Regions from separate parts of the Homo sapiens genome. Here all the other regions are linked to region 4. Evidence: fine-mapped expression QTL. A gene starts in region 4. Each other region holds a variant in brackets. All regions are shown on one strand. Distances are from middle to middle. Region 1 overlaps RGS9 (regulator of G protein signaling 9). Region 2 overlaps RGS9 (regulator of G protein signaling 9). Region 3 overlaps LOC100507002 (a long non-coding RNA gene). Region 4 holds the start of RGS9 (regulator of G protein signaling 9). Region 5 has its middle 100 kb from the start of RGS9. Region 6 overlaps RGS9 (regulator of G protein signaling 9).

Region 1 (5,121 bases), 37 kb before region 4:
AAAGTCCAGGCTTGTCAGGCACGTCTGGGTGCCACTCCTGGTTCTGCCACTTCCCAGCTGTGCAGAAGATCTTGGAAAACACTCCTTGTCTTGGCACTCACTAACCTCTCTAAGAAACAGAGAAGAATCCTCCTACGTGGCAGGTTCTTGTGAAGATTTAACAAGATAGGGTGTGAAGCTCTCCACAGAAGGTAGCTATTGCTGAGCAAGGGGTTGTATTCATTTTAAGATTACATATGTAAAAGAATGGCCCAAAACTGGGACTGTAATCTCTGTTAGTTCCCTTTGCCAGCAGGTAACCCAGCTCTCCAGAAAATCTTACTTGGTCTCTCTCAACTCCTTGACTCTTTGAGACCAATAATTTGGGTCTTTCACTTCCCCTGATGCAGGTGTGATGCCAGGCATCCACCCATTGCTCAGCACATGTGACCAACCAGGTTGGCTACACTGAAGCAGAGAGTTGGGAAGCAACTGGGCTTTCTTGCCATCAAATTCAGCCTCATCCATGGGATCAGACTGGGTTTTAGCTCAGATGTAAGACTGCCAGATAAAATGTAGGAAGCCCAGTTAATTTAAGATAAATGGCAAATAATTTCTGTCCCAATATTTTGATGCTTATTATATATTTATACTAAATATACAAAATACATTTTACATAAAAATTATTTGTTGTTTATCTGAAATTCAAATTCAACCAAATTTCCTGTATTTTATTTGCTAAATCTAGCAACCTAGCTCACCGGGCTACCATGGAGGCAAATATGTGCAGACAAGACGACACAGGGAAGAGAAAGGAAAAGGCAATAGAAAGTGGGTGGGGAGGAGGACAGGGAAAGGGAATGGCCATCCTTACCCTAGTTGTTACAAGTGGATCTTGATCAGCAAATATCTATGGGGCACTTCTTATGTGCCGGACATTGTGCTGAGCCCTGGGGAGCCCATGGTGAGTGTGCCCCGAGACCACTGCTCCCCAGCAGGCATTACTGAGGCACTCCCAGTCTCAAGGGGGAGGTAGCCACTCAGCAATTAATCACACAAAGGATAAATTAGAGTTGAGACAGGTGTCTTGAAGGGATAACACCATGGGATCTAACCTCACATGGCAGGGGCTCAGCAGAGTCAGTGCCTTTGCCAAAAAGGGTTCTAGGAGTTGCCCCCTGAATCTGGTATGGAGAAATCCCCCTGCATAACTGAAGGCAGACTTCATACACACACTTTGGCACGTTCACACACTCTCACACTCACACTCACACACCCACACACTCTCATACATACATATGCACACTCACACATGCTCACATACATACATGCCCTGACACACTGGCACACTCACACACGCATGCTCACATACATGCACACACCTACACATACTCCCACATGTACATATGCACACTCACACACACTCACATACACACATGTCCTGACACACACACACACACACACATTAATATGGTTTGGTTCTGTGTTCCCACCCAAATATCATCTTGAACTGTAATCTCCATAATCCCCAGGGATTGAGGGAGAGACCTGGTGGGAGGTGACTGGATTATGGGGGTGGTGTCCCCCATGCTGTTCTCATGATAGTGAGTTCTCATGAGATCTGATGGTTTTATAAGTGTCTGACAGTTCCTCTTTCACATACTCGCTCTCTCTCGCCTGCCACCATGTCAGATGTGCCTTTTCCCGTTCCGCCATGATTGTAAGTTTCCTGAGACTTCCCCAGCCATGCAGAACTGTGAGTCAATTAAACCTCTTTCCTTTATAAATTACCCAGTCTTGCGTATTTCTTTATAACACTATGAGAATGAATACACAAAAACATGCTCACATACATGCACACACATATGCATGCTCACACATAACACATTCACACACTCACACACGTGCATACTGACACATATATGTTTACATGCATGCACAAACCTAGGCACACTCACATATACATATGCACACTCACACTCACATACATGCTCACTTACATGTACACATCTACACACTCTCACACATACATACATATTCTCACATACATGCACACCTTGACACGCCAACACACTGACATACATGCTCACACACATGCACACATGTACACACACTCGCACACATACATTCACACACTCACTCACATACATGCACACCCAGACATACTGACATGCACTCACACTCACACACAGCCTGTGCTCATGATGCCCTACAACCAGTGTCTGGCTGCTATTCCACAGGCGCTCACTGCCTCGGTGACTTCGGTGTGGTCATCTGCTCAAGTCTTGAATTCGTTATCTAGTTCTTTCCTTCCAATGTGCCCCAGGCTCTGATATAAATTTGGTTGCCCCAGTGCTCAACAGTGCACTGCATAACTGAGATAGAGTCCTCTATGCCCTCAGCTGCCCAGACCAGACGGCCTTAGACTCTCAGACCTGCAGCCACCCACTGGGCTTCATGATTCTGCCAGCCTGTCCAGTTCCAGCCCCAACCTGGCTCTCCATGCCTTCCCTACAGAACAGCCAGGCACAGTCCTCTGGCCACTGCTGCCTCGGCTCTTGCACCTCTGTGGGCAGCAGCCCTTAAGTCTCAGTTGTTCCCAATCAAGCTGTGGTCCTTTTCCAGTTCCCTGCCCTCGAAACTGGTGAGAGGGCTGCCTTTCTGCCTCTGCTGGTTTCAGAGACTCCCAAGCTCCTTTCATTCATCCATTTCTTCATTCATCAGGTAGTGTAAAGTCTTTGACCCACTATGATCATCACCAGAGTGCTGCTGACACAGTTTCTGGCACATAACAGGGTGTTCAGATGAAGTTAACCAGAACTGACTGTCAGCGCCCAGGAAATAAGGGCAGCCGATGCATCCTGCGGTGTGTGGCCCGCAGATAAGGAGGCAGCAGGCACTTTCTGCCCTGGTGCCTCATGCAGGAAGCCTTCAGAGACATGCAAGCTCCCCTCCT[C/T]CACCCTGAGGAACTGTGAACACCAGGGTATGACCCCGCCCCCCACAAACAACATCCCTTGGGTGTAAGCCAAAGAGGCAATTTGCTCAATGCATCATCATTCAGGTCAGGAAAGGAGCTCCTGTACTCGTGACAACTGCTCGTGAGGAGGCGATGTTCCCAGGAACCCACATACAGAGCAAGGCCAGCGTGGAGCTGACGGACACTTCTCGGTGGTACTCCACCGTGTCCCCCTGCCCCTCCTTCTCTCAGCTTCACTCTCTTCCCAAAAATATCAGACTCTTCTGGTGCATGGAACAGAAAACAAATACTAAGTAAAACACTAACTCGTTTTCTAAACAAAATAAGACAGGGGAAAGAAATAGAGATGAGGCCAGGCGCGGTGGCTCATGCCTGTAATCCCAGCACTTTGAAAGCCTGAGGCCGGCAGATCATGAGGTCAGGAGTTCGAGACCAGCCTGGCCAACACAGTGAAAACCCATCTCTACTAAAGATACAAAAAATTAGCCAGGCGAGGTGGCGCACACCTGTAATTCCAGCTACTCGGCAGGCTGAGGCAGGAGAATCGCTGGAACCCAGGAGGCGAAGGTTGCAGTGAGCTGAGATCACGCCATTGCACTCCAGCCTGGGCAATAGGGCAACACTCCATCTCAAAAAAAAAAGAAAGAAAGAAAGAAAGAAAAAAGAAATAGAGATGAGGTGAAACAGGGAGACAATTTTATGTTGCTGTGTTAGGAAAGTCAGCTCCTAGAGGATCTTGGCTTGAATGTCACTCTCCACGTCCTGTGTCCTGTGTTCCCTGACCCCCAACCGGACGCAGAGCCCCTGCCTCCTACCAGCTGCCATGGCATTCTGCTTGTTACTCATTCATTGGTTTAATCATTTTAGTCTTTGTCTCTCCACCAGACTGCAAGAAACTCCTTGAGGTCACGGGCAATGTCTGTCTTGGCTCATAATCCAAATATCCCCAATGCCTAGTAAGCACCCGGCATAGAGCAGATATTCACAAAATATATGTTAATTTTTTTTATTTTTTATTTTTGGACCATGGCACATGGAGCATTCCACCCACCCTGGTTTTATAATATAACATTATGTGTCAGGCCGCCACAGTGGCTCATGCCTGGAATCCTAGCACTTTGGGAGGCCAAGGTAGAGTCAGGAGTTCGAGACCAGCCTGGCCAACATGGTGAAACCGCCGTCTCTACTAAAAATACAAAAATTAGCCAGGTGTGGTGGCAGGCGCCTGTAATTCCAGCTACTCAGGAGGCTGATTCAGGAGAATTGCTTGAACCCAAGAGGCAGAGGTTGCAGTGAGCCAAGACCATGCCACTGCACCCCAGAGCGAGACTCTGTCTCAAAAACAAACAAAAAACAACAAACAAACAAAAAACACATTGTATGTCAGATCATTTTCCTAGATCAATGAATGGCCTTTGAAAATATTATTTGAATAGCTTCACAATGTTCCATCATGTTAATATACCTCAATTTATTTTGCCATTTTCCATTGTTGGACATTTAGCCTAACTTCGATGGGAAATGGAGGGCAGACATCTCTGGCAAGTGTCTGCATATGTGGTTGAAACAAGGGTCATTTAGCTTGATAAGCAGATAAGCACACCCACCGCCAGGAAGCAGCCTCAGACTACATCCTTGGGAGGCAGGAAGTCACAGATGGCACAGCAAAGATGCAGGGAAGGCCTCCACATGCCTGTCTAAGGGAGCACTTTCTCCCTTTGTTCATTTACAAAACTCACTGTTGTTTGCATCGTGCTCAGATCTGTACTTGGTTCCATTTGAGTAAAAAACAGGTGAGAAACATCGTTTTCCTTCATTACAGGATGCTGAATCACAGGTGTCCTTTGGGCTCTGGGTAGGAATTCAGGTCAGAGCCCTCAACTACCACCACCCACGTGGGGTCTTGGCCTTTGCCAGTGATGATCTCCCTGAAACACCATCTATCAGACATTTCTCCCTGCCTTTCTAAATCAATCACCCTCTCGCTGTGCCCCTTCTGCAATTAGGTCTTATCTCTGGGAGAGTGTCACTCACCTGTGCTCCAGCAATTTGGATTTTGAGCTCCTTGAGCTGAGAGAGGGACCACGGGTGGGGCCTCCTTGCACAGAAGCAGAATATCGGGCTTTACCATCAGAAAGATGTGGCTTCCTCTCCCAGAACTGAGC
Region 2 (5,121 bases), 83 kb before region 4:
CCTGGCCCCACCACAGCCCCACTGAAGGAGAATATCAGGGGGGTGCGACTGAAGGAAAGCATTTCTAGCTGACATCTGAGATTATTCTGCCCTGTAAGCTTAAGGGACTCTGCACTAAGCTTCTAACCCCTTCCCTTCTATAGGGAGGTGCAACTCTACTTAGGACACATTCTGCAAAGAATGTACAGCAGGGAAAGCTGGGCCTTGATTAGGGGCTTGGGAGACAACTGTTAGGTGGAAAAGGGTGGCTCGTAGATGTATCAAGTATCTACTACATGCTAGGTACTTTGCTTATCTATAACCACCCCATTTTAGAGAACAGAACATTGAGGCCCACAGGGGCTCATTACCCTTTACCAGCTCTCATGACTAGTCAGTGACTGTGGCATGTAGAATCACAGTGACTGTGGCATGTAGGATTCCCACCCCTGTCCTTGAGTGTACACGTGAACCATAAATGTGATGGGGTAGTCACTCCCAGTCAGGCTATGTGATGAGGCATAGCTGACTTTTAAAAAGGGGGAGTGTCTGGGTGAGCTCCAGCTGGTCACAGGAGCCCTTTCCATCTGAGTCTAGAGGCCAGAGGCAGAAGGCAGAGAGATCGGAAGCTTGGCAAGGATTCAACTGGGGAGAAGGTCTCCATGGCTGGCTTTGAAGATGGAGGGGGCACATCTCAAGGAATGCAGGTGGCCCCCAGCTGCTGAGAGCAGCTCCCAGCTGATGGCCAGCAAGAAGACAGTGACCTGAGTCTTAAACGAGGAACTGAATCCTGCCAGCAACCCAAATGAGCTTGGAAGCAGATTCTTCTTAGAAGCATCCAGATGAGAACCCCGTCAGCCTGGCTGACACCTTGAATGTGAGACCCTGAGCTGAGAACCCAGCTGCGCTGTCTAAGATTTGTGTCCTCCACAAAATGTATATGTTGAAGGCCTTCCCCTTGCAGGTGATAGTATTAGGAAGCGGGGTCTTTGGGAGGTGATTAGTCATGAGGGCAGAGCCCTTGTGAAAAGGATCAGTATCCTTATGAAATAGACCCCAGGGCACTAGGTTGGCCCTTCCACCGTGGGAAGACACAGTGAAGAGACTCCATCTATGAACCACAAAGTGGGACTCCACCAGACCCCGAATCTGTTGGGGCCTCCATCGTGGACATCCCAGCCTTCAGAACCGCGGGAAGTGTTTGTTGTTGATAAGTTCCCTAGTTTATGGAATTCCCTTACAGCCCCTTGAACAAGACATCAGCCAAATGTCTCCTGGAAAACTGAGCTCATACCTGGCTGGTGCTTGTGGTCATTGTTATGCAGCAATAGAAAACTGAAGCAGTGACTAAATGAGAACCTGAGGCCAGGTCTGTGTGACCCAAAGGGCCTTGCTTTCCTTGCTGATTCACATTGCCATCCAAAAATACCAAAACTAGGAACTCGGCTTTGTCAAGAGAGATACAGAATTAACTTCCATTCCACTTCCTCAGAATTTGTGATAAACTTCTATCATCCCACTATACAGATAAGACAACTGAGGTTCATGGATATGATGCAACTTGACAAAACTCAAAGTTTGTGACCAGATCAGCCTCTCTATATGCCCTCCCCCAACTCTGTGCCCTCCTCCCACCCTCCTACCTCTCTCGGTCCATCTCTGGCTCCACTCCTCCCCTAGCATCTTCTCTTTTCTGGGATGAATGACAGACAGGCGAGGAAGATGGCCACTTACCTGGCCTGAGATGGTCCTTTCTTCTGGGCAAATGACCATTAGCTTTACTGGTCCTGGACAATCTAAGCAGATGTCTTTTCCACCCGTTCCCACAATTCCCCACCTTGGTCCCTCCCATGGAGCCTGGGGCTCTGCTTGGAGACCCAGCCCCTCCAGCCCATGCCCCACCTACCATTGGTGTGAGGCAGCAAAGCAGTGGCATGCATGACACATGGCAAAGAAATGTGACACCACAGAGACACAGTGAAGGAGAGCTTAGCATTGTTTTGTTTCATGCTGCTGTTTTATTGTACAAGGGAACCAAGAGAAGGGAGTAAAGGAGCATGAAATGAAACAGGTATGTTAACATGAGAACACAATCACAGGCATTTTAATGAATGGCAAAG[C/A]AGGTAGTGCATAGAGATGAAATTCATTTTCTGTCCTCGGAATGTGGTTGAGAATTTGAAAGAGACCTTGGGGCCACCTGAACTCCCACTTCCTGGGAGCAGAAAGGTGAGCAGAGGGCCACATTTAGGTGCAGCATGCAGTGTGCAAAGTCCCCTCTTCCAGTGCCTTCCCACTCTCCCCTTCCCCACCGCCCCCAAGCAAATGTGCAAAGTTAGCCCCATGGGGAAAACTCTGCCATGGGTGAACACATGGCATGACCCCATACTGGTCATCCCATTTGACACAGTCTAGCACAAGACCTTCTCAGTTAGCAACGACCCTTACTTCAGCCATGAAACTCCAGACTACAGGATTGACCAGTCACTACACTGTTGCTGGTCAGTCCTCTCCTAGAAGCTGCAGACAGAGGACATGACATCAACTTCTCCCCCTCCTCCCCTCAAATATATCCTAACGTTCTCTGGAGAGCTGGAGGACCGCACTGCAAAATTCTCAAAGAACAGAGAAGATAGATGGTTTGAGATGACAATGTTTTAAATATCTCTCAGGAAATGCCTTAAATAAAGAATAATGATTTACTATATTGGACAACACCAACAGCTAGAAGAAAGCACAAGCTTACTCTAAGACTGAAGCTACTAGGTGATGATGGTGATGATGGTGTATTAATGGTGATGGTGATGGTGAGGATGGTGGTGATGATAATAATAATGATATGGTGATGATGGTGATGATGGTAGTGGTGGTGATGTTGATGGTGATGATGATAGTGATGATGATGATGATTGTGTATTAATGGTGATGGTGATGGTGAGGATGGCGGTGATGATAATAATAATGATATGGTGGTGATGGTGATGATGATAGTGATGATGATGATGGTGATGATGGTATGATGGTGATAGTGATGGTGATGGTGGTGATGGTGATAATGGTGATAGTGATGGCGATGAAGGTGGTGACAATGATGATGGTGGTGATGATGATGATAGCAGCTAGTGTTCGTTGAGGGCTTATAATAGGCCAAGAATTGTCTTAGGTCTTTACTCATATTTTGTCCCTGGCCCTTATATTTTTACTTAATATTCACAATGAAAGCAGCCTTTTCTCTAAAAGTCAAGTTGGAAAATGGAACTCTATAAAGGAAATCCTTGTACTTACAGAATAACTTATATCCTAGCACAAGCTATGCACCCCATGGATAGAGGGGTTTGTTAAGTTGTTTAAAATATAACATTAAGGAATTCAAAGGTGTCTAAGGACACGGCATAATAGAGATTTTCATAGTGATTTAAATATATCGTTAATATTGTCCAAATAAATGTTTATTTTTTATGCTATTTGGGATTTCAACGGGCCCTGTGGGACACATAGTTTAAACATTAGCAGGAGAAGCTGCCACCTGCTGGAACAATAGCAGCAGCCACAGATGCTTGCAAGCCCTCAGAACCTGCAGTCCCTTCACTACCAAACATGAGAATTTCCTGGTGGACTCCAGGGTTGGAAAGCAGAGCACTGGCATACACTGATGTTGGGGAGAGGGAGGTGCAAGGTGGAAAAGAGCTGATACCTGGAGTTGAGATCATGGTGAAGCCACACAAATGCACACAGCCCTGAGTCCCTAGGAGCTGCATAGAGCTTTCCAGGATGGATGGTCCCGGTTGGCCACTGGTCCTGATCACCAACGAACTGCCCTGCCTGGCCCTGCCCACCCCTCTGCTTTAGCCTCTGCTGATCTCCCCAAGTCTCCACTGCCTTCACCAGGCTAGCAGTCCTTGCCAACCCTTCCCAAAACATTATGTGGCTTCCCTATAATATCACACCATTTGGTTTAATTGTCTCTCCTGTTGAACAGCAAATGCCGCAAGGGTGTCTCTCTTGCTCACTGGTGATCCCAAGCACTTAGCAGGATGCTGGGCATGTAACAGGTGCTGAATATCTCTGTTGAATGTTGAGTGGTCATAACAGATAGAGGAAAACTGTTATCAGAGCCTGACCCCTCTATTCACAGAAGCTGGAACTCTGGATCCCAGCCTTGGCAGATTACAAGAAGCAAGAGAGTGAGCAAGAAAGAGAGAGTGAGAGAAGAGGACAGAAAGAAAGGGGGAGGAAAGAGAGAGAGAGCTATTTCTGAGCATCCACCCTAAGCCAGACACTCTCTACTATCAATAACATTCTAAGAGAAATGATAACTTCAGACAGGTTGAAGGTCAAAGCCACCCAGCTAAAATATCAAAACTATGTCTGCCTAACCCCAAAGTCCACATTCCTTCCCCTACCATTCAAGCCTGGCTTCAGAAAAAAAGCTGTTCTCATACCATCTAGCTTCAAGGATTAAAATTCCTGGAACCACAAGACAGAGATGTGTTCATTTAGCGATGTTTAAGGATCAACCCTTTACAAGTGCTGTTCTGACTGGAAGCTGATAGCAAGCGGGTTTCTTAAAGTTCTGCATCGAAAGTAGTCAATGACTGCTGGAAGACAACACCTCCCTCTTTCCCGTGGCCATCCCACAGCATTTCCCATTGACAAAGTTGCTGGGAATTCCAAAGTTTTCCTGAATGGCTGCTTGGCTGACCAAGGAGTATCATGGAATGTACATCTCTCTCTATGCCACCTTTGAACATACAGAAACTTCCATATAAGGAGAGGAGACACTTCTTCCCTCTCCTAGCTTGACAACCTTCTACTCAACTGTTTGGTTCAGCATCCATCATCACTGCCTCACAGTGATTGTCAAGCACTTGTTTGGTTCAACACTTCAGGGACTTCTCCTGCAGTCACATGGCCTTGCTTCTGTAGCCACACTGCCCTCCTCCTGCAATGCTCTCAGCAAATGCCTCAAATATTCCCTAATCATTAAAATTGATCTTACCTTAACTTAGCCTTCAGCTTCCTTCCCTTCCACTTCCAAATCTCTCTGAGTTGCAACATCAGAGAGTAAACTATTCCTCTCCAAAACCAATCTTGGCTTTGGTCTGATCCCCTCCAATTTTTTCCAGGCTTTCTCTTATCAATTAT
Region 3 (5,121 bases), 26 kb after region 4:
TTATTTATTTTTTAAGATGGAGTTTTGCTGTTGTTGCCCAGGCTGGAGTGCAATGGTGCAATCTCGGCTCACTGCAACCTCCGCCTCCCAGGTTCAAGCAATTCTCCTGCCTCAGCCTCCCAAGTAGCTGGGATTACAGGCATGCATGAATTTACTTTTTAAGTGTACATGAAACGTATCAAAATTGATCATATGATGGGCAATAAAGAAAGCCTCAACAAATTTCAAAACATTGAAATCATTCAGAGAATGTTGTTTGACCAGAATAAAATTAAGTCAGAACTCAATAATAAAAAGATAATCTCCACGGCCTGGAAATAAAAAATATATTTCTAAATAACTCATAGATTAAAGAAGAAATCTAGACAGATATTAGCAAATATTTTGAACTGAATGTGACCCCATAAAAGACGTAACTTCTAAAAACTCATAGGATGCAGCTAATGTAGGGACTAGAGAGTTATTTATAACCTTAAAAATGTGTATATTCGAAAAATGGACAGGGTGAAAGTCAATGATTTATTTTTTTAGTTTAAGAACAAAAAGAACAGTAAGTTATATCTAAGGAAAATAGAAGTAAATAATAAAGATTATAAATCAGTGAAATAGAAAACAAATCTGCCTGGCGCGGTGGCTCACGCCTATAATCCCAGCACTTTGGGACGCCGAGGCGGGCAGATCACGAGGTCAGGAGATCGAGACCATCCTGGCTAATGTGGTGAAACCCCGTCTCTACTAAAAATACAAAAAAATTAGCCGGGCGTAGTGGCGAGCGCCTATAGTCCCAGCTACTCAGGAGGCTGAGGCTGGAGAATGGCGTGAACCCGAGAGGTGGAGCTTGCGGTAAGCCAAGGTCGTGTCACTGCACTCCAGCCTGGGCGGCAGAGCGAGGCTCCGTCTCAAAAAAAAAAAAAAAGAAAGAAAGAAAAGAAATAGAAAACACATATACAATGGAGAAAAATCAACGAAATCAAAATTTGGTTATTTGAAAATATTATTTATATTGATAGACTCCAAACAATACTGATCAACAGAAACAAAAAAGACAAATTTTCAATATTAGAAAGGAATATCAATACAGATCCCACAAATATAACAAAGATAAGAGAATATTATTGTCTTTACACCAAAATATTGACAACTTGGATAAAATAGACAAACCCCCTGAAAAATACAACTTTCCAAAGCCCACATAAAAAAGTAAAATCTGAATAGCCAATATCTCATAAATAAATGGAATCTATTCAAGAACTTCTCACAAAGAATTCCAAGCCCCAGATGGCTTGCTTCATCAGTTAATTCTTCCAAATATTTAAAGAATAATACCATGGGCTGTGTGTGGTGGCTCACACCTATACACCCAGCACTTTGGGAGGCTGAGGTAGGAGAATCACTTGAGTCTAGGAGTTCAAGACCAGCCTGGACAATACAGTAAGGCACCGCCTCTACCAAAAATTTAAAAATTAGCAGGGCATGGCAGCGTGCACCTGTAGTCCCAGGTACTTAGGAGGCTTAGGTGGGAGGATTGCTTGAGCCCAGGAGTTCAAGGTTATAGTGAATGAGCTGTGATGGCATCACTGCTACTCCAGTCTGGGTGACAGAGTGAGAACCTGTCTCTAAAAAAAAAAGAATAATACCAATCTTGCATAAACTTGGACAAACTCTACCAAAGAATAGCAAAACAGAGTATAGTTCCCAACTCTTTTTATGTGGCCATAACCTTAATAGAAAAACTGGACTAGGATATTATAAGCAGAAAAAATTACAGACCAATGTCAATCATTGTGGTATGAGAAAAAATAAATATTTGGGTTTTGTCCCTGGTTCCTGGCACATGGCTCCCGAAACTCCTGAAATCTCCACAATGGCAAGAGTGTCTTTTGTATACTAATGAAATGACTAGTGGCTGGAGGCTTCTAGGTAGTTCAGGATGAAGAGGTCACCAGAAAGACCTAGACAATAGCTCTTATTCTGCATGCCAAGAAAAATAAACAACTAAAAAAAAAAAAAGGAGAACTAGGCATGATTAGAGGGTTGGAACTTTTAGCCCCACCCACTGACTTCTGGGGAGGGGAGAGGGACAAGGGGCTGGAGATTGAAGTAATCACCAGTGTTCAAAGATTCAATCAGTCATTGCTATGTAGGGCTCATGCCTATAATCCCAGCACTTTGGGAAGCCAAGGCAGGCGGATCACCTGAGGTCAGGAGTTCAAGACCAGCCTGGCCAACATGGTGAAACCCCGTCTCTACTAAAGATACAAAAATTAGCTGGGCATGGTGGTGTCCACCTGTAGTCCCAACTACTTGGGAGGCTGAGGCAGGAGAATTGCTTGAACCTGGGGGGTGGAGGTTGCAGTGAGCCGAGATGGTGCCACTGCACTCCAGCCTGGGCGACAGAGCGAGACTCCGTCTCAAAAAAAAAAAAAA[AAAAAAAAAAAAAAAAG/G]TCATGCCTATGTAATGAAACTTCCATTAAAACCTCTAAATGATGGGGTTCAGAGAGCTTCCAGGTTGGTGAACACATCAAGGTGCTGGGAGAGTGGTGTGCCTGGAGAGGGTAGGAAAGCTCTGTGCTCATTCTCCCTTGCCTTGCTCCATGCATCACTTCCATTTGGCTTTTCCTGAATTGTATCCTTTGTAATAAACCAGTAATATTAAGTTAAGCACTTTCTTGCTTTCCACTAATCATTCTAGCAAATTGTCAAGCCTGTGGGAGGTGGTCATAAGAACCCCCAATTTGTAACCAGTTGCCCAGAAGTATGGGTGGCCCAGGACTTGCAACTGGAGTCTGATTGGGACAGTCTTGTAGGGCTGAGGCCTTAAATCTGTGGAGGCTAATGCTAACTCTGGGTAGTGTCAGAATTAAATTGAATTGTAGGACACTCAGTTTGTGTTGGAGAATTGGTTGGTGTCAGGAGAGGAAAAAAATCCTCACTTGTGAATATAGATGCAAAATCCTAAATAAAATATTAGCATTTTTGCTAAGGAATTAGAAAAAATCAAGCATCCATCTAGGGTTTATTCCAGGAATACAAAAGTGATTTAATATTCTAAAATCAATCAAGGTAATTCATCACATTAGTAGGAAAAAATAAGATCATAAAATCATATTGATATATACATAAAAATGATGAGTTGATAGATACATAAAAATGGTGACTTCAGAAAATGTGGTTTCAAGAAGTAACATCAGATTCATTTTTCTTTCCTCCCTTGGAGTTCTGTCTGTCCAGTCTAGATTGATTTGTAGAAGAGAACTGCAGTCTGTTCCACGCCTAGCCTGAGCCATGGCCTGTACTGCCTGTTATGTTGTAAGACCCTCTGATTTCCAGGACCCTCTGGCTTTGGATTTTGGTCCCCATCTTTGGGTCTGCATGTTTTTTACTGATATTTCAACCTGCAAGACAAAAAAGAAGGAGGCCGGTAAACAGGTATTATTTAACATAATTATTGACATATGTAATATAATTACTATGTCGGACACTCTGGTAGGTTCTGGAGGGACAAATATGAACCCAAGTTCTGGAAGTCTAAGTAACTCATCGAAATTCCCACTGCTGGTAAATGACAGAGCTGATATGTGAACCAGTCAGTCTGGCTTTGGAATTCATACTCTTACTCATTCTGTCACTAACTCTACATGACCAACCATAATACTAGGCATTAAGTGTCAAATAGACATAAGTTACACAGGCTGTGAAAGCACAAAGAAAAGACATCAATTCTGGCTAGGGGTGGGTTGGTTCTGGAAGGCTTTTAAAGAAAGAGGATTTAAGCTGATACTTAAAGATTTGTAACTGGCAGAAAATGAGAATGTATTACTCAGGATAATTTAGATTATGCTGTGGTAACACAGATTTAACCCAACAAGGGTTTATCTCTCTTAAGAAAATGCTAAGTCAAGTTGGGCAGTGTCCAGGGCCCTCCCTTGATGTCTTGACTCAACTCTCTAGGCTGCTACCATTTATGGTTTCTCATTCCATTACATGTGCTCCATCACTGTGCAGGGGAAGAGAGAAAAACATGGAGAATTGGTACTCACCCTTCAAGACTTCAGCCTGAAAACCCACACAACACTTCTGCTCATGGCCCAGTAATTCTAACTCAGAGAACATGGGCTATTTGGCAAGAAGTTGTTGCTTCTGCCCCAGAGAAAAGGAGCATTCCAGGCTGAGGAACAAGCACGTGCAAAGGCATGAATGGGTAAAACTGCATGGCATGCCAAGGGAGAGCAAATAAATCCAGGACACAATAGGTCTTCGATGTCATTCATAGACAAATGGAAGCTCTCATGGAGAAGCAGCAGAGTTTGCCTTGTTTTGCAAAATTATAGATGGTTTTAGATGTGCAAAATTATAGATGCAAAAAGGAGGGTATGCAGTTGTAGCCATGCCCTTGGACTTCGCAGCCTCCATAATCGTGAGCCAAATAAGCTTCTTTTCTTTGTAAATTGCCCAGTCTCGGGTATTCTGTTAGAGCAACAGAAAATGGACTAAGACAAATAATCAAGAAATACTTCCTAGAGGAAGTGAACTTGGAAGGGAACCCATGGTACGGCCAAGTAGAGAAAAAGGAGGAGTAAACCTTTCTGTATCAGAGGAAATAATCATGCAGGAGAGAGCACAGTTCAGGCAGAGGCAATGAGGAAAAGTAAGAGAATATGGTCACTAGAAGCACTATAGATGAGTCTCTTGTACTTAGACACTGCAATCCTAATTGCACAGGAGCTCAAAAGGGACAGCAATCATAGGATGGTCCTGTGGTTTGAAGGTGACTCCCAAAAGTTTGTGTGTTTGAAACTTAGTTGATAATGTATACAATTTGGTGAAGGCAAGAGAATATGATTCCAAGATTTCCTACCTCTCTGCCAAGCCAATGGTGGTAGTCAGTATTTAAAACAGGAAACACAAAAGAAAGCAGCCTGTTTTGAAAGAGAAAAACTTGTTTGTGCCGTGCTCTGGAACATATACACAGAAATGTGTAGCAGCCAACTGGAAATAACAGCCTCAAGCTCTGGGGTGAGGAGAGGCATCCCAGGATGAAGGTACAACAGAAGCAAAGGAATGGAGACAGGAAATATCAGGGTATACAGGAGACCTACAGTAAGAATGAAGGTCATTCCTC
Region 4 (5,121 bases):
ATAGAGGATACATAGACAGGGCCCTTGCCAGCACAAGGTCTAGGGAAAGAGCAATGCTGGAGGTGTGGCAAGGTCTGTAGTGCACAGAGAAGGGAGCTGTCCTGCCCAGGGGCATTAGGAGAACCAGCCTTCACAGCCGAGGGGTGACTGAGCTGGGCATGGGAAGAGAAGTGGAGCTTGGCAAGCGAGAGGGGGAGAAAGGACTTTCCCAGCAGACGGACCCTGAGGCATGAAAGGGCACCGGGTTCCTAAAAAGGAAGGAAGTGTTTGAGGCAGGAGCCCAGGGGTGCCTGTGGCTGCTTTGTTGTTTCCCAGAGGGCAGGTGTGGAAGGCAGGCAGGAGGCAAAGCCAGGAAGATGGTGGGAGCGGAATCCTGGGTAACCAGGCTGCTCAGGGGAAGGTTGGACTTTATGCTGGGAATGTGGGAAGCCAGTGGAGCGTTTCAGGTCAAGGAGGTCACCATTGATTTGGGGGAAAAAAACAGTGTGTGTAGGAAAGCTGTCATGGAGGAGGGGAGACCGGGGTGGAAGATGGGGAGCTGGGATGCAGGAGGGGGAGGTTAGGGTAGAGGAGAGGTAAGTTAGGATGGAGGAGGAGAAGGCTGGGGAGGAGGAGGAGGATGGGGTAGAGGAAGGGGAAGACAGGGTGGAGGAAGAGGACCTGGGGTGGAGGAGGGAAAGGTGGGGTGGAGGGGGGAGAGCTGGGGTGGAGGAGGGGAGCTGGAATGGAGGAGGGAGAGGTTAGGGTGGAGGAAGGGAGACTAAGGTGGAGGAGGGAGAGTTTGGGTGGAGGAGGGGATGCTGGGGTGGAGGAGGGGATGCTGGGGTGGAGGAGGGGTGGCTGGGGAGGAGGAGGGAAGCCTGGGGTGGAGGAGAGAAACTAGAGACCAAGACACTAGTCAGAAGACCAAGGTAAGGAGAGGAGAATCTACCAGAGAAGAGTCATGATGGAAAAGAATGCCAGAGATTCAATAAACAAACTGAATTTATCTCTTGACAATTACCCTCTGAGCCCCCAAGCCAGAGCTGTCCTGCCTGGGAGGAGACAGTCCTAGGATAAATCCTGGAAGATGATGTGTGGCTTTGAGATAGCCGACTTAGGCAGTTTCTTCTGCTTTTAGTAACTGGTATCTGCAATACAGGCTCTCAGGGTTCTTTCTGAGTGAGACAACATTCAGCCTGTCTGCTTTACAGATGATACCCACACCTCTGCTACCCGGAAGATGAGCACGAGCATCTTGAAACAGGTGGACCAAATGCGACCGTCTCGGGGTCCCCAGGACTGTCCAGGTTTTAGCATTGAAAGTCCTGGGCAAATCAGGACAGCGGTCACTGACTATACAAATTTGCTGAGCTCCAGGGGCTCAGGGAGAGCTCAGCTTGTCACAAAACATTCAACTAATTCTACTCAACAAGATAAGCCTAAGAAGATGGACACTACGCTGTGAAAAGTGGCTACGGGTGGGAGGAAGGACAAAGATGTGACCCGGGACCTAATCCTCTGTAGATCTCATCGGACAGTGATTATACCAGAAGCTCAGAACTAAATGAACCACTTTGTCCCCAAACACATCACCCCACAGGTGCATTCCACCTCCCACATGTCCATCCTGTGTGCACACCCTGTGCCCGGTCACTTTGTCTGGGAAAGCATTCGCAAGGGAAGCGAAAAGGTTGGGACTTCTGCCGCCAGCGCAGACAGCAGGAGATGCACAGATAGACACACTCAAATGAGGGCTCTCAGGGCATTGTAAATGGGGTGGCCCTTTATCCTACAAATCACCCCGTTTTCATGGTCTATGTGTACACACACACACACTTTAAAATAGTGCAGTTTGGGATCAGAAAAAAAAGGCAAAAATGGCAATGTCACATCTGGTCGTCTTACAACAATATCAGCAGGCTGTCTCAAATCTGCCACAGCCTGAACTGAACCTGCCTCTCCCGAGTAACAGGTTGTTTTCACCTCCCGCAGACCATCAGCGCTGGCTTCAGATTCTCCACTACAGGCAGGGCACACGAAAACCTAATTATTATAGCCATCAATATCGACACACACAGCAAAGAAGTCACTTAATAAAATCGAGCAGCACAAATCGACCCAAAGGGGTGCTCTCCACTCCTGCCCCTCTTGTCCTCGGACGCTTCGCAGATGCGGTCCCCCGCCCTCCTCCCAGGGTCCAGGTGAGGGGCCAGGGTTACCTTTTGGAGAAATGCCATCCTCGGCCTGTACTGCTGGCCTTGGTGTCGGATTGTCATCCTGGCCCCTGGATGGATTCACAGCCAGAGCACCAGTGGGAGACAAGAGGAGAAGCCCCCCAAGTTCGAAAGGCAGCCTGGCTCGCCCCAGCCCTGGGCGTCGACGGGGAGGCGGCTGGGCGGGGAGGGCGCGGGCCGGGCCCCCCTGACTCTCACTAGGCGCCGCTGACTTGGAAAGCAGCTGGAATCCGCGCCAGCCAATCCGCGAGCGGCGCCGCGGGCTCATTAGCATGCGCTGCGCGGGCGCCCACCTGCCGCCAGGGGGCGCTATCCGGCCCCCGCCGGGACCCCGCGGAGCAGCAGGTGAGACCCGCAGGGCAGGGCCCCGGGAGGAGAAGGAGGAGGAGGACCTGGCGGGAGGAGGAGGAGGACCTAGCGGGAGGAGGAGGAGGACCTGTCGAGAGCAGCGAGCCTTTTAACTTGGGGCGGAGTTATGCACAGAAGTGACACAAAGAGCCCTCACTAATACAGCGCGGTGGAAAATACGGACTTTCCCATCCCAGCTCTGCCACTAACCAGCCGGCAGCCTTGGGCAAGTTCCTTACAATCTCTAAGAATCAATGTCCTTCACTCAAAAGTAAAAATTGAAAAATGGGATCATAATATCGACCAGAAAAGGTTGCTATACCATTTTAATGAGGAGATGTGTAACACAGTGCTTGGCCCTCAATAAATGCTTAGAAAAAAAAATTAGAGGTGGCGATTTAATGACCCAATAGCAGAGGAATTGCTAAGATGTGGGTTTAAAAAGAGAGAGCAAAGAAGTGAAGAAGGAAGAGAGGAAGGTTGTAGTCCTCACCGGGCTAGCTGTCTGGATGAAGCGAATTATATTTTACTTCTCTGATTCTTAGTGTTTCGGTTAGTTGGTTGTTGGGTTTGTTGTTGTTTAACTTTTTTTTTGAGACAGGGTCTTGCTCTGTCACCCAGGCTGGAGTGCAGTGGCGTAATCATGGCTCATTGCAGCTACAACCTCCCAGGCTCAAACAATCCTCCCACCTCAGCCTCCCCAGTAGCTGGGGCTACAGGCACGTGCCACCACACCCCGCTAATTTTTACAAAAATTGTTTGTGGAGAGGGAGTTTCACAAACTCCTGGGCTCAATCGATCTACCCACCTCGGCCTCCCAAAGTGCTGGAATTACAGGAGTGAGCCACTGCAGCTGGCTGGTTTGCTTGTTTTAATAGACTTTATTTCTTAGAGCAGTTTTAGGTTCACAGCACAATTGAGCGGAAGGTATAGGGACACGTCATATATCCCCTCTCCCCACGCACGCACAGCGTCCCCCATGATCAACATCCTCCACTGGAGTGGCCCATTTGTTACAATTGATGAACCTACCTTGACAGCTCATTATGTTAGCGTTTTCATCTTGAGAAAAATGCAAGGATGAAGCCTCTAAGTTATTATCAAGAGCCTTTCTGCTTTGTTATATAAAGCACTTTCTCTTAAACATACTCGATGGTTATTGAGTGTAGCAGATAAAATGTTTAAGTTGGAAGAAAACAAGAAGGCCTTTACCTTAGGAAGGCACAGTCAACCAATGTCCCTTTAAAGCAGTGGTTCTTGGCTGGGTGTGATGGCTCACGCCTATAATTCCAGCACTTTGGGAGGCCCAAGCGGGTGAATCACTTGAAGTCAGGAGTTCAAGACCAGCCTGGCCAACATGGCAAAACCCTATCTCTATTAAAAATACAGAAATCAATCAGCATGGTGGAGCAACCTGTAATCCCAGCTACTCAGGAGGCTGAGGCACAAGAATCACTTGAACCCAGAGGCTGCAGTGAGCCAAGACTGAGCCACTGCATTCCAGCCTGGGTGACAGAGTGAGACTCTGTCTCAAAAAAAAAAAAAAGCAGTGGTTCTTATCCATTCTCTCGGGTGATATTTACCTGTAAGAATCTGATGAAAGCTATGGACACTCAGGAACACACACACATGCACATGTACACAACACTGACTGAAGTTTGCAAACAATTTCAAGAGGTTCATGCTTGGGCCTCTCTTGTGCCTTTTCAGGAATCCCTGATTCAGAGCCTCCAATTTAGAGGACGCTGGACCCTGCAGAGATCCATCCAAGCAGAAGACCAGAGATCCTGCCAAGCAAATTGAACCACTGAGAAGTATGCTCCTGGTGTGAGCTGAGATCCAAAGAAAATGCTGGAATATCTTGATTTTTTTTCTCATGAAGCATCTTTTGAGCCTGGTGTGAGTTTAAATCCAAAGAAAATGCTGGAATATCTTGATTTTTTTTCTCATGAAGCATCTTTTGAGCCTAGTGTTATACAGAGCACATGCTGGGATCTGACCAAGATGAGCTATGAAGTTCCTTCCAGCTTCAACATCCCTTGTCTCTAGAAACCCTAAGCATCAAGAAGATAAGTGGCTTTCCTAAAATGAAGGATGAGAAAAATTATTCAGGAGCAAAGAGAGGCAAAAATAAAAGGCACTTTGCTCATTAATAGAATAGGAGAGGCCTCAGTGCCTGCCACTCTCCTCCCCACCCCTTCTGTCAGGCCCTGCTCTCCAAGCAACTACATTTTGTGGGACCCATCTTTGCTCATTGGACCAGAGGCCAGTTCCCCACATGATAGGACCATGATGTGGATCTGAAAAACGGAGAGGAGCTTGTTAGATTATTACCTTCACAAATGCCAACTTGAGTCAGATAAAGTCAGGGCCACAGGAAGCTGAGACCAAATGCAAGCTGAAGTTATGAGGAAGGAGAAATGAAAGGTGAGCAGAGGAAGCTGATCAGAAAAGGGAGGCAAACAGGCTGGGCGCGGAGGCTCACGCCTGTAATCCCAGCACTTTGGGGGGCCGAAGCGGGCGGATCACCTGAGGTCAGGAGTTCGAGACCAGCATG
Region 5 (5,121 bases), 100 kb before region 4:
ACACTTTTAAACAACCAGATGTTGTGAGAGCTCACTCACTATCACAAGAACAGCAAGGGAAAAATCCACCACCATGATCCAATCACCTCCCATCAGGTCCCTCCCCTGACATTGGAAATTACAATCCAACATGAGATTTGGGTGGAGACACAGAGCCAGCCATAACAGTTCCTGAATAGGTGCCCAGATTTCCCTACAGCTTGAAATAGGCACTGCTCTTTCTTTGTCCCTGAACACTGACTCCTAGTCTTCCAAGGACACGATCATCCCAGAAAATACTTTATTTCAGCTCCTTACTGAAGTAGTTGTCTCCTTCATTCAGTGCCTTCTCATTTTATATGGGATCATATTTTAACATGTTATTTTTCATTTATCAAATGTAAGTGTTCTGTGATTATTTTCTTATGTTTCTGACCTTTTCTGCTACATGTTCATCAAAGGAACGAATGCTTTCTACACACTAGCCCAATACACACACACAGAGCCACATTCTGGGGCCAGCAAGACTCTCTCAAGGTTCCTCTTTGCTTCAACACTACCTTGGAGGAAATATTCATCAAGCATTCACCAGGTCCCAGCCACTGATCTGAGCTGTTTACATAAGTTAGCTGGTGATCCTCACACCCTGACCCCCAAGGAGGCTGTGTTATTCTGATGTCAAGTTTATGGATGAGAGAACTGAGGTTTGGAGAGCTTTAGTGAAATGCTCAAGGCCACTTGGCTAGGAAAGGGTAGAACCTGGATCTGACCGGAAGCAGTGTGACACCAGAGTGTGTACCCTCAGCTGTCAAGTTTTGCAGCCACTCCTAACACAGTGTATTGTAATTCTTAGTTTAAAAGTATGCTCCCCATCTAACCTATGCATTATTGAGATCAAGGCCTAATTTTATTCACGATAGCATACCAAATGCCTAGTGGACCCTCCATGAAACTTAGAGGAGTGCATAGATGGATGGCTATGGTGTGAGGGGAAGAAAAATGTTTCCCTCTACCAACTTAGGTTCAGTGGTTGGGGGCCTGCAAATTAACTGACAAAAAAACAGGTTGGGAAAAGACAAAGTTTATTTGCATACCTAAGAGTTCCCAAAAATCTATCTCTCTGAATAGTGAGAGGTAAGGATTTATACATCATCTTAATAAGAAGGGGGTTTAAGACTTTCCAGGAGAGCAAATGATGGGGAGCTAATGAGAAACAAGCAGAAAGCATGGAAAGTTTTGATTTTTTTTGTTTATATAATTTCTTATCCAAGTGTGAGTGGTCCATCTCCTTTCTGTCTGTAAACCTCCTGGAGAGAGTATTTATGGTAGCTATATTTTCAGGAGACTTTTATTAAGTCATCAAAAAAAAAAAAGAAAAAAGTTTAGATAAGGTATTTTGGGTCTTTTTTTCCCTGCTTTGGCTGCTGTTTGTTCAGATGTTTTCGGCTTTAGATAACCCTCATATGACATTGGTGGGTCCAAGGGGATCTTATGAGATAGACGGACAGATAGATGGGTGGATGGGTGGAGGAGTGGATGGAGGGGTGGATGGATGAATGGATGGATGGATGAATGGATAAATGGATGGATGGATAAATGAATGGATGGATGGACGGATGGATGGATAGAGGAATTGACAGATGGATGGAATGATGAGGGTAGATGGTGTGGACACATTTGTGTGTTTAGGATGGAAATCAAAGAGGCACTTCACAGCAGGGCCAAAGCCAGAGCCAGCCTCATAAAGCATCCCCAAAGAAGTGTGAATCTCCCTGTCCCCAAGTTACAGCTTGTTGTGGTGCCTACAATTCCAAGTTTGGAGATGCATTTTCTTAAGCCAGAGGTCCCTGTTAAAATGGAGCTACAATGGAGAAGGAAATACTATAATTTGATAACTTAGAGCAGAGTGTGTATATATAAATAAAATATACATATGAATTTATATGAAATATATTCATTTAAGTATATGAAATATATGTGTATAACAATATATGACACATATGCAGCAGCTATGTTGTTGTGGAAAAGAAAGTCCTTGGTGGACACCCAGCTCTAACAATAGGACAACTGAGCTAACATGAACTCCCTCCTATCAGAAAACTTGGAATTAATACTGAATGAAGAGAACAACTACTTTGGCCCCAGGGAAGAGTGACAGGAAATGGCCTGTGGTCCAAAGGCTTGGAAAACCAGACCTAAGACCCCTCCATCAGGTGAAATTCCTGAAGGGCTGCCCAGGGCAGGAAAAGGGGACTCGAGAAAAGAGACACTTCTCCCTAAGGTATAACAAACATGCAGTAGGAGCTGCCAAAAGAGAGAGAGCAAAGAAAATGGAGAGGAGGAGGAAGCATTATCCAGCGACAATAAATGAGAATTTTCGGAGTAGAAACAAGATATGAGTCCTCAGATGGAAGAAGCATCACCCCCAGAAGGATAAACACAAACACCTCTGTACCTAGACATGCTATAGGGAAACTGCAGAACACTCAAGACAAAGACCAGTACTTAGAGGCAAAATAGAGAAGAAAATCTATTAAGCAACTATCAGGGAATCAGCCCCCA[A/G]TAGTCACGTAGGTTCTTTTCTATTTTCCCTAAGCGTCGGCCGGGTTGAGAAATAAAGGGACAGAGTACAAAAGAGAGAAATTTTAAAGCTGGGCGTCCAGGGGAGACATCACATGTCAGTAGATTCCTGATGCCCCACAAGCCACAAAACCAGCAAGTTTTTATTAGTGATTTTCAAAGGGGAGGGAGTGTACTAATAGGGTGTGGGTCACAGAGATCACGTGCTTCACAAGGTAATAGAATATCACAAGGCAAATGGAGGCAGTGCGAGATCACAGGACCACAGGACCAGGAGGAAATTAAAATTGTTAATGAAGTTTTGGGCACACATTGTCATAGGTAACATCTCATCAGGAGACAGGGTTTGAGAGCAGACAACCGGTCTGACCAAAAATTTATTAGGCAGGAATTTCCTCGTCCTAATAAGCCTGGGAGTGCTATGGGAGACTGGGGCTTATTTCATCCCTACAGCTTGACCATAAAAGACGGCCACACCCAAGGGGGCCATTTTAGAGGCCCACCCTCAGGGACGCATTCTCTTTCTCAGGGATGTTTCTTGCTGAGAAAAAGAATTCAGCGATATTTCTCCCATTTGCTTTTGAAAGAAGAGAAATATGGCTCTGTTCCACCCAGCTCACCAGCGGTCAGAGTTTAAGGTTATCTCTCTTGTTCCCTGAACATTGCTGTTATCCGGTTCTGTTTTCAAGGTGCCCAGGTTTCACATTGTTCAAACACACATGCTCTACAATTTGTGCAGTTAATACAATCATCACAGGGTCCTGAGGTGACATACATCCTCCTCAGCTTACAAGATGACAGGATTAAGAGATTAAAGTAAAGACAGGCATAGGAAATCACAAGGGTATTGATTGGGGAAGTGATAAGTGTCCATGAAATCTTCCCAATTTATGTTCAGAGATTACAGTAAAGACAGGCATAAGAAATTATAAAAGTACTAATTTGGGGATCTAATAAATGTCCATGAAATCTTCACAATTTATGTTCTTCCACCATGGCTTCAGCCGGTCCCTCCATTTGGGGTTCCTGGCTTCCCACAACAAGCAACAGTAATTGAACCTCTCATCAGCAACAAGACAGGACAAAAGATGATGAAATACTATCTGAATTCCCAAGGAGAAATTACTCTCAACCTATCTTTTTCAATTCACCTAAATGATTATTTAATAGTAAATGATTAAAATAATAATAGGGTAAAATAGTGTTGAGGATAAAATAAAGACATTTTTAAAACAAAAAAATAGACTTTTCTCTCAAGGCCATCAGTGAGAGAATCACTAAAGGATGCACTTCAGTACAAAGAAAACTGGACCAGGAAAAAGAAGTGGTATCCAAAGAGGAGTGATGAGCACAAATTTGGGTAAACTTGTAGCTGATGCTAAAAAAGAATTGACTATAATACACAATAATAACACCGCTAATGAGTTATTTTGTTTAAAAACATAATGAAATTAATAATAATATGGCACAAAGTTTAACAGACTTTGACCTTGAGCTAAATCCAGCCAGTAGCTTATTTTTGTAGTCTTCTGATAAGAATGACTTTAGTTTTGTTTATTGTGTTAAGATATTCATACCATCAAATTTATGATTTTAACCATCTTTAAGTGTACAGTTCAGTGGTATTAAGTACATTGTTGTGCAACCATCACCACCATCCGTTTCCAAAATTGTTTTTGTCTTCCTGAACTGAAACTGTGTGCCCATTAAACACTGATTCCCCAGTCCCACCATCCCTATCCCAGCCCCTGGCAACTACCATTCTACTTTCTGTCTCTGTGAATTTGACTACTCTAGGTATCTTATATAAGTAGAATTGTTACCAGAAAGGGGTCCTGATCCAGACCCCAAAAGAGGGTTCTTGGATCTTGAGCAAGAAAGAATTCAGGGCAAGTCCACAGAGGAAAGTGAAAGCAAGTTTATTAAGAAAGCAAAAGAATAAGGAATGGCTACTCCATAGGCAGAGCAGCAGCTTGGGCTGCTGGACTAGGATACTTATAGTTATTTCTTGATTTATATGCTAAAGAGGGGTTTAATTATTTATGAGTTCTCTGGGAAAGGCATGGGCAGTTCCCGGAACTGAGGGTTCCTCCCCCTTTTAGGCCATATAGGGTAACTTCCTGACAATGCCATGGCATTTGTAAACTGTCATGGCACTGGTGGGAGTGTCTTTTAGCATACTAATGCATTATAATTACCACATAATGAGCAGTGAAGGTGACCAGAGGTCACTTTCGTCACCATCTTGGTTTTGGTAGGATTTGGCTGGCTTCTTTACAGCAGGCTGTTTTATCAGCAAGGTCTTTATGACTTGTATCTTGTGCTGATCTCCTATCTCATCCTGTGACTAAGAATGCCTTCACCTCATGGGTGCAGCCCAGTATGTCTCAGACATATTTTACCCAGCCTCTATTCAAGATGGAGTTGCTCGAGATTGAACACCTCCAACAGAATCATACAGTATTTGTCCTTTTATTACTGGCTTATTTCACTTAGCATAACATCTTCAAGGTTCTTCCATGTTGTGGCATGTGTCAGAATATCCTTCCTTTTTAGGTTGAA
Region 6 (5,121 bases), 31 kb before region 4:
CTGTGTAACTTTGGGCAAATTAGCAGCATCCTTGAGCTTTCACTTGCTTATCAGTACAATGAGAATAATAATAAACCCTTCCACACAGGGCTGCAAAGGTTCAATAAGAATGCAGAAGGCGGCCAGGCGCGGTGGCTCACGCCTGTAATCCCAGCACTTTGGGAGGCCGAGGCAGGCAGATCACGAGGTCAGGAGTTCAAGACTAGGCTGACCAACATGGTGAAACCCCATCTCTACTAAAAATGCCAAAATTAGCCGGACATGGTGGTGCATGCCTGTAATCCTAGCTACTCAGGAGGCTGAGGCAGTAGAATTGGTTGAACCTGGGAGGCAGAGGTTGCAGTGAGCCGAAATCGTGCCATTGCACTCCAGCCTGGGTGACAGAGCAAGGCTCCATCTCAGAAAAAAAAAAAAAAAAAAAAAAGAATGCAGAAGGCTTAGCACAGTGCCCAGCACACTGGGAGTTCTCAGTTCATGTCTACTGTGATGGTGACGGTGACAGTGACCACAGTGATGAAGACAATAAGGGTGGTGGAGGTGGTGGAGAAAGTGGGGGAAATAAGAGAGGTGGTAGAGGTCAGGGAGATAAAGGAGGTGAGGGAGTGGGAGGTGGGATGACGGTCATGGTGGTGGAGATGGGCTGGGGGGGAGGCAGTGGTCATAGAGACACATGGTCATATTTATGTGATTCAGCATCATCCTGTGAAGAGCCACTCAGCCACTAGCCTGGTGGGGGCTGAGAACTTACCCCAGAAGAACTGAGAAGAACCCGGATGATCAATTTTTCATGTTAATGCATAGCTAGTCTATGTCACTTTGCAAGGAATGTAGTCACATAGGCATTCGCACAGTGAGGAGTCTCTGCACATAATATAGAAGCCGTTCTTTACCTACCCTCAGGTATGGTGCCACTGGGCACCAAGGTGTCTTGCCAAATGTGGCATATCCGCCATGTCTCCTTATCCTCACCACAGAGTGCTTCTGGAACACACGAGCAATGTGAGGCTCCTTCTCATACAAAGAGTTTCTTCGCTACCAACCAGGAGGGGTGCTTATCTCTGGGACCCTGTGCTCTGTCACCCGGCCCCCAGATACCTGCGTCAGGCATCTGTAAACTGGTTTCCCTAGAGGAGAAACCCTGAAGCAAAGAAAAAATCAAACAAGCTGTTTGGGATCAACCTCAGCACCTTAACCTCAGCAACACAGCATCCAAACCCATGCCGCTACAGAGTGGAACACCTTAGGAGAATCTGTTTTCAGTATATAAAGAATATAAGCAAAACAGCCAAAATCGGATGGGCTTGAAACTCAAAAATCCATAAACTCTGACACCAGGCCTCACTCAGTTCTCCTTCTGCTTCTGAGAATTTCTGATACCTGGCAGGCAAGGAAGCTAAAGGAAGAGGAGGAAGAACATTTCTTTCTAACTCTTCGGTTTCCAGAATCTCATTCACATCTCCTACCTCCCATGACCCATAGGCAGCACAGGGAGCTGTACAGGAGGAAACTGAGGTAGCAGAGTTAATCCCAGTATGTAGCAGTCAGACCCCACTTCTGTGTGCTGGGGAATGAGGCTACCATTTCCCAGTGATGAGCTGGGGCAAGTTACACCAGCTCTGTACAGCTTGTCCCTCTGGGCCACTGAAGTCCCAAAGCCAGAGATTCAGTGTGCTCCAAGCAAGGAGAAGCTCAACACAGACGTATTCCTTCTCCTTCTCCCATCTCAGCTGCTGGGAACTGGATCTAGGAGAGGAAAAAGTGAGGGAGCTAGAGACACCAAGGAGAACTTTGGCCAAGCAGTTTCCATTCTCACGGGACTCTATTTTTCTGCATTGGCGCCTCCATTGGGGCCTACGTTCTAATTTTTTCTCCTTATATTCCTTTCCCAAGGTATGATATCCTAGCAAAAAAAAAAAAAAAAAAAAAAGTCCCAGCCCTCGTAAAAGACAAATTCATTCAGGTCCCTCCCTACCTAACACCAACAGATGGGCCATGAGCAGACCCCATCCAGGCAGAGAACTTCCTTTTCTGGCCAAGAGGCACTTGGATGCTAACCCAACACTGAGCAGCTCCTCCTGCTGATCCAATTCTCGCCCTAGAGAAAGAGGAGTTGGCAACAGGTATGGAGAGCACAGGATGGAGGTGGGAGGCACAGGAAGAGACAGAGGACACCAGGCAGGAGGATACTCACAGGGCATCGGTGCACCAGCCAGTATGCCTTCTCCTGGCAGTCCAGGGCATATCTGTCTGCTTTGTTCCTCTCCTTTCCAGCCCTGGAAAGCCAAAAGCCACGTGTAAGGCCAGGAAGACTTTGTGTCTTTTGATTAGTGATGCCCCTCATTCCTGATGACCTAGACCCCTCTCCCAACCTGCCCAAGTAATTCACATATACCGTAATAGTAATGAACACAGCAAGCACTGACATCTCACTTAAGTACTAGCACCCTTCTAACCACTTTGACACGTATTAACTCTTTTAATCCCACTTCATCCTCCCGGTGGCCTTTTCTTACTTCAAAGTTCAGGGCACTGAAATGAAGAGGGGGTGAATGCCCCACCAGCCCACCAGGGTCACACTGCTAGCAATTGGCAGAAGTGGCACTTGCACTTGGGAGTCTGGCCAGGGTCTAACTCCCCCGGACAGGACAGTGCTGCACTGAGATCATATTGCCGCCACCAGCCCTAAATCAAACCAACTCCACCAACTTCAACATT[A/G]GAGAGCAGCGCGCATGGGTGAACTTCCGGGTCGACATTTGACCTCCTGGCTTCTTAACTTTTCCCTGTTTGGGCAAACAACATAGTCAACGTCTGGTCAGGCAGGCAACCCCCTGTGGGATGGTGACAAGGAAGATGCTGGCCTGGGGAGTCCTCTCTCCTCCGTGCCTGTAACTTCTACTCTGGCACTGCAAAGAGTTCATGCCACGTCGGGGCTTTTTCTGAGCACAACTTATTGCTATAAAAGGCTATTTATGGCCCGGCGCAGTGGCTCATGCCTGTAATCACAGCACTTTGGGAGGCTGAGGTGGGCAGATCACTTGAGGTCAGGAGTTCAAGACCAGCCTGATCAACATGGTGAAACCCCGTCTCTACCAAAAATATAAAAATGTTCCGGGCATGGTGGCAAGCACTTGTAATCCCAGCTACTCAGGAGGCTGAGGCAGGAGAATCGTTTGAATCTGGGAGGCAGAGGTTGCAGTGAGCCGAGATCGCGCCACTGCACTCCAGCCTGGGCAACAAGAGCAAAACTCCGTCTCAAAAAAAAATAAATAAATAAAAAAGGGCTGTTTATTTTCCTTTTTATCTCTCAGTCTCTCTCCCTTTCCCACTCTGGATGGGAAATGACGCAGGGCCTTCTTCCTCCAGGGGCAAAGTAACACTAATGATCCCGCCGTGGGCCCCCTTCTGTACCATTTCCACGGAGACCCGCGCTCACACTTGTTAATGCTTGTTTTCCCAGGCAACGTGGGATGACGCACACGCCCTCTGCAAGACAGAGTCGGCGAATTCATCTCCCCGTTAACGTACTGTGAAAAACATCATAACACTCAGGGAGCCAGATGGGTGAACAGCGCCATTCCATTTGGGCGTTCCGTCAGCCTCCTCTGGAAATTAAATATAAACATTGTTTTCAAACTTCCCCCTGACAGCCTAACTGGATTTTCTACCACATTAACTAGCCCCTGACCTCAGGAGCATGGGCCACAACCAGCCTGAGGCATTGCAGTTTCCACAATGCTGGAGAGCCTGGTAAATAGAGTCACTCTCTGATTTACCCCACGGGTCCTTTCCGGCTTTGCTCTTCTGCTTTTCTGTAACAGATGTTATTAGAGGAGAGTCATGATAAATGGAATGCAAGAGAGTTAGTAACCTAGGAATTACTTTAGTTTGTGATTTTTTCAGCAACAGCATTTGCTTAATTTTTCATTCATTCATTCGTTCATTCATGTACTCATTGATCTTCCAGTATATTCCAAGCACTGGGAGTCTACTGGTGAACCAAACATAGTCCCTGCCCTTGAGTAGCTTTTGAGCTAAACATCACATACACAGTCAAAGAATCAATACAGAATTGCAAATTGCATTATTTGCCATAAGGAAACAGAGTACCATCATGCAGCATCAGGGATGGCCTCTGTGGTGATTTTTAAATATGTCTACAATTCTTTGACACTCTTTCCATTGACAGATGTGTCTATGTCTCCTCCCCTTGAAGCTAGATGGGATTTTGTGATGGTTTCTACCAACATGGGACGTCAGGCATGGCACTAATTTCTGAGGCCAGGCCATAAAAGGTGGGACAGCAGTCACCCTCCTTACTGGAATATGTGGTCTTGAAGTCCCCAAACACCTCTAAGCAATCTAACAACCCTCCCTGATGCCGCCATGCTGTGAGGTAGCTCAAGCTAGACCACACAGAGAGGCTACAAGAAGAGAGTAGGAAATGCCAGCCAGCCCCAGTTGCTCCAGGCCCCCAGCTCCAGCCATCTGACAGCAACCACTCAAGAGACTCTGAGTTAGAATTGATAGGCCAAGACCTTCCCAAATCCCTAACCTATAGAAATCAGGACACATAATAAAATAATTGTTGTTGTTTTGAGCCACTAAATTTAGGATGATCTGAGTGCAGTAACAGCTAATCAGAAAAGCCTCTTTGAGGAAGTAACATTGGAAGTGAATGTTCTCCCCGATAGCTAGAGAAGATGGATTGAGGTGATCTTATCTGTGTTTCAAACATGGGGAGAAATTGGGAGCAGAGAGGCCAGTTGGGAGGATGTTGCCATGGTTCAGGTGACGGTGAGTTTGGTTCAACCAGGGTAGGGGCAGTAGAGGTACTGATATGGGTGATACTGGAGGAAGAGGTTTGGAGAGTGAGGGAAAGACATATTTGAATATGGACAAGGTAAGTTTGAGGTTTGACAGCAACATGAGATCTTGAGTAGCTGTCTGGGTGCTGAGTGTGGAACTTGGAAGACAGGACTCAGCATAACAAAATGACTACTTTATGGGCCAACCTACATGGTCAACCACGTTTTGTGCTGAGACCCTAAATCTGAAATCAGAGGCAGCCTTTAAGCCATAAAATAAGTGGGAAAAAGCCATCTCAAATGGAGCAAGCCTTTT

The links. PIP is the estimated chance that this variant, and not a neighbour inherited with it, causes the effect.
Region 1: its variant is fine-mapped to the expression of RGS9 in whole blood (TOPMed, PIP above 0.99).
Region 2: its variant is fine-mapped to the expression of RGS9 in whole blood (TOPMed, PIP above 0.99).
Region 3: its variant is fine-mapped to the expression of RGS9 in skeletal muscle (FUSION, PIP 0.95).
Region 5: its variant is fine-mapped to the expression of RGS9 in whole blood (INTERVAL, PIP 0.94).
Region 6: its variant is fine-mapped to the expression of RGS9 in tibial nerve (GTEx, PIP above 0.99).

What each region holds. Positions count from the first base shown.
Region 1 is chr17:65,171,407-65,176,527 of GRCh38, reverse strand. All of the region lies in intron 8 of RGS9 (regulator of G protein signaling 9), which reads right to left. It also overlaps the pseudogene ZNF848P. Among named protein-coding and RNA genes, the nearest start is that of RGS9, 37 kb to the right of the region's middle. RefSeq lists an enhancer at 2,785-3,578. The variant C/T (reference allele first, on the strand shown) is at 2,936.
Region 2 is chr17:65,217,744-65,222,864 of GRCh38, reverse strand. All of the region lies in intron 17 of RGS9 (regulator of G protein signaling 9), which reads right to left. Among named protein-coding and RNA genes, the nearest start is that of RGS9, 83 kb to the right of the region's middle. The variant C/A (reference allele first, on the strand shown) is at 2,100.
Region 3 is chr17:65,108,989-65,114,109 of GRCh38, reverse strand. LOC100507002 (a long non-coding RNA gene) reads right to left here. Exons shown (of 3, transcript NR_110801.1): 3 at 3,015-3,394. Among named protein-coding and RNA genes, the nearest start is that of RGS9, 26 kb to the left of the region's middle. The variant AAAAAAAAAAAAAAAAG/G (reference allele first, on the strand shown) is at 2,428.
Region 4 is chr17:65,134,678-65,139,798 of GRCh38, reverse strand. RGS9 (regulator of G protein signaling 9) reads right to left here and starts at 2,429. Exons shown (of 19, transcript NM_003835.4): 1 at 2,202-2,429. The coding sequence starts at 2,258. RefSeq lists a silencer at 2,240-2,739.
Region 5 is chr17:65,235,239-65,240,359 of GRCh38, reverse strand. No RefSeq gene overlaps it. Among named protein-coding and RNA genes, the nearest start is that of RGS9, 100 kb to the right of the region's middle. The variant A/G (reference allele first, on the strand shown) is at 2,542.
Region 6 is chr17:65,165,352-65,170,472 of GRCh38, reverse strand. RGS9 (regulator of G protein signaling 9) reads right to left here. Exons shown (of 19, transcript NM_003835.4): 8 at 2,192-2,273. Among named protein-coding and RNA genes, the nearest start is that of RGS9, 31 kb to the right of the region's middle. RefSeq lists an enhancer at 2,325-5,121. The variant A/G (reference allele first, on the strand shown) is at 2,716.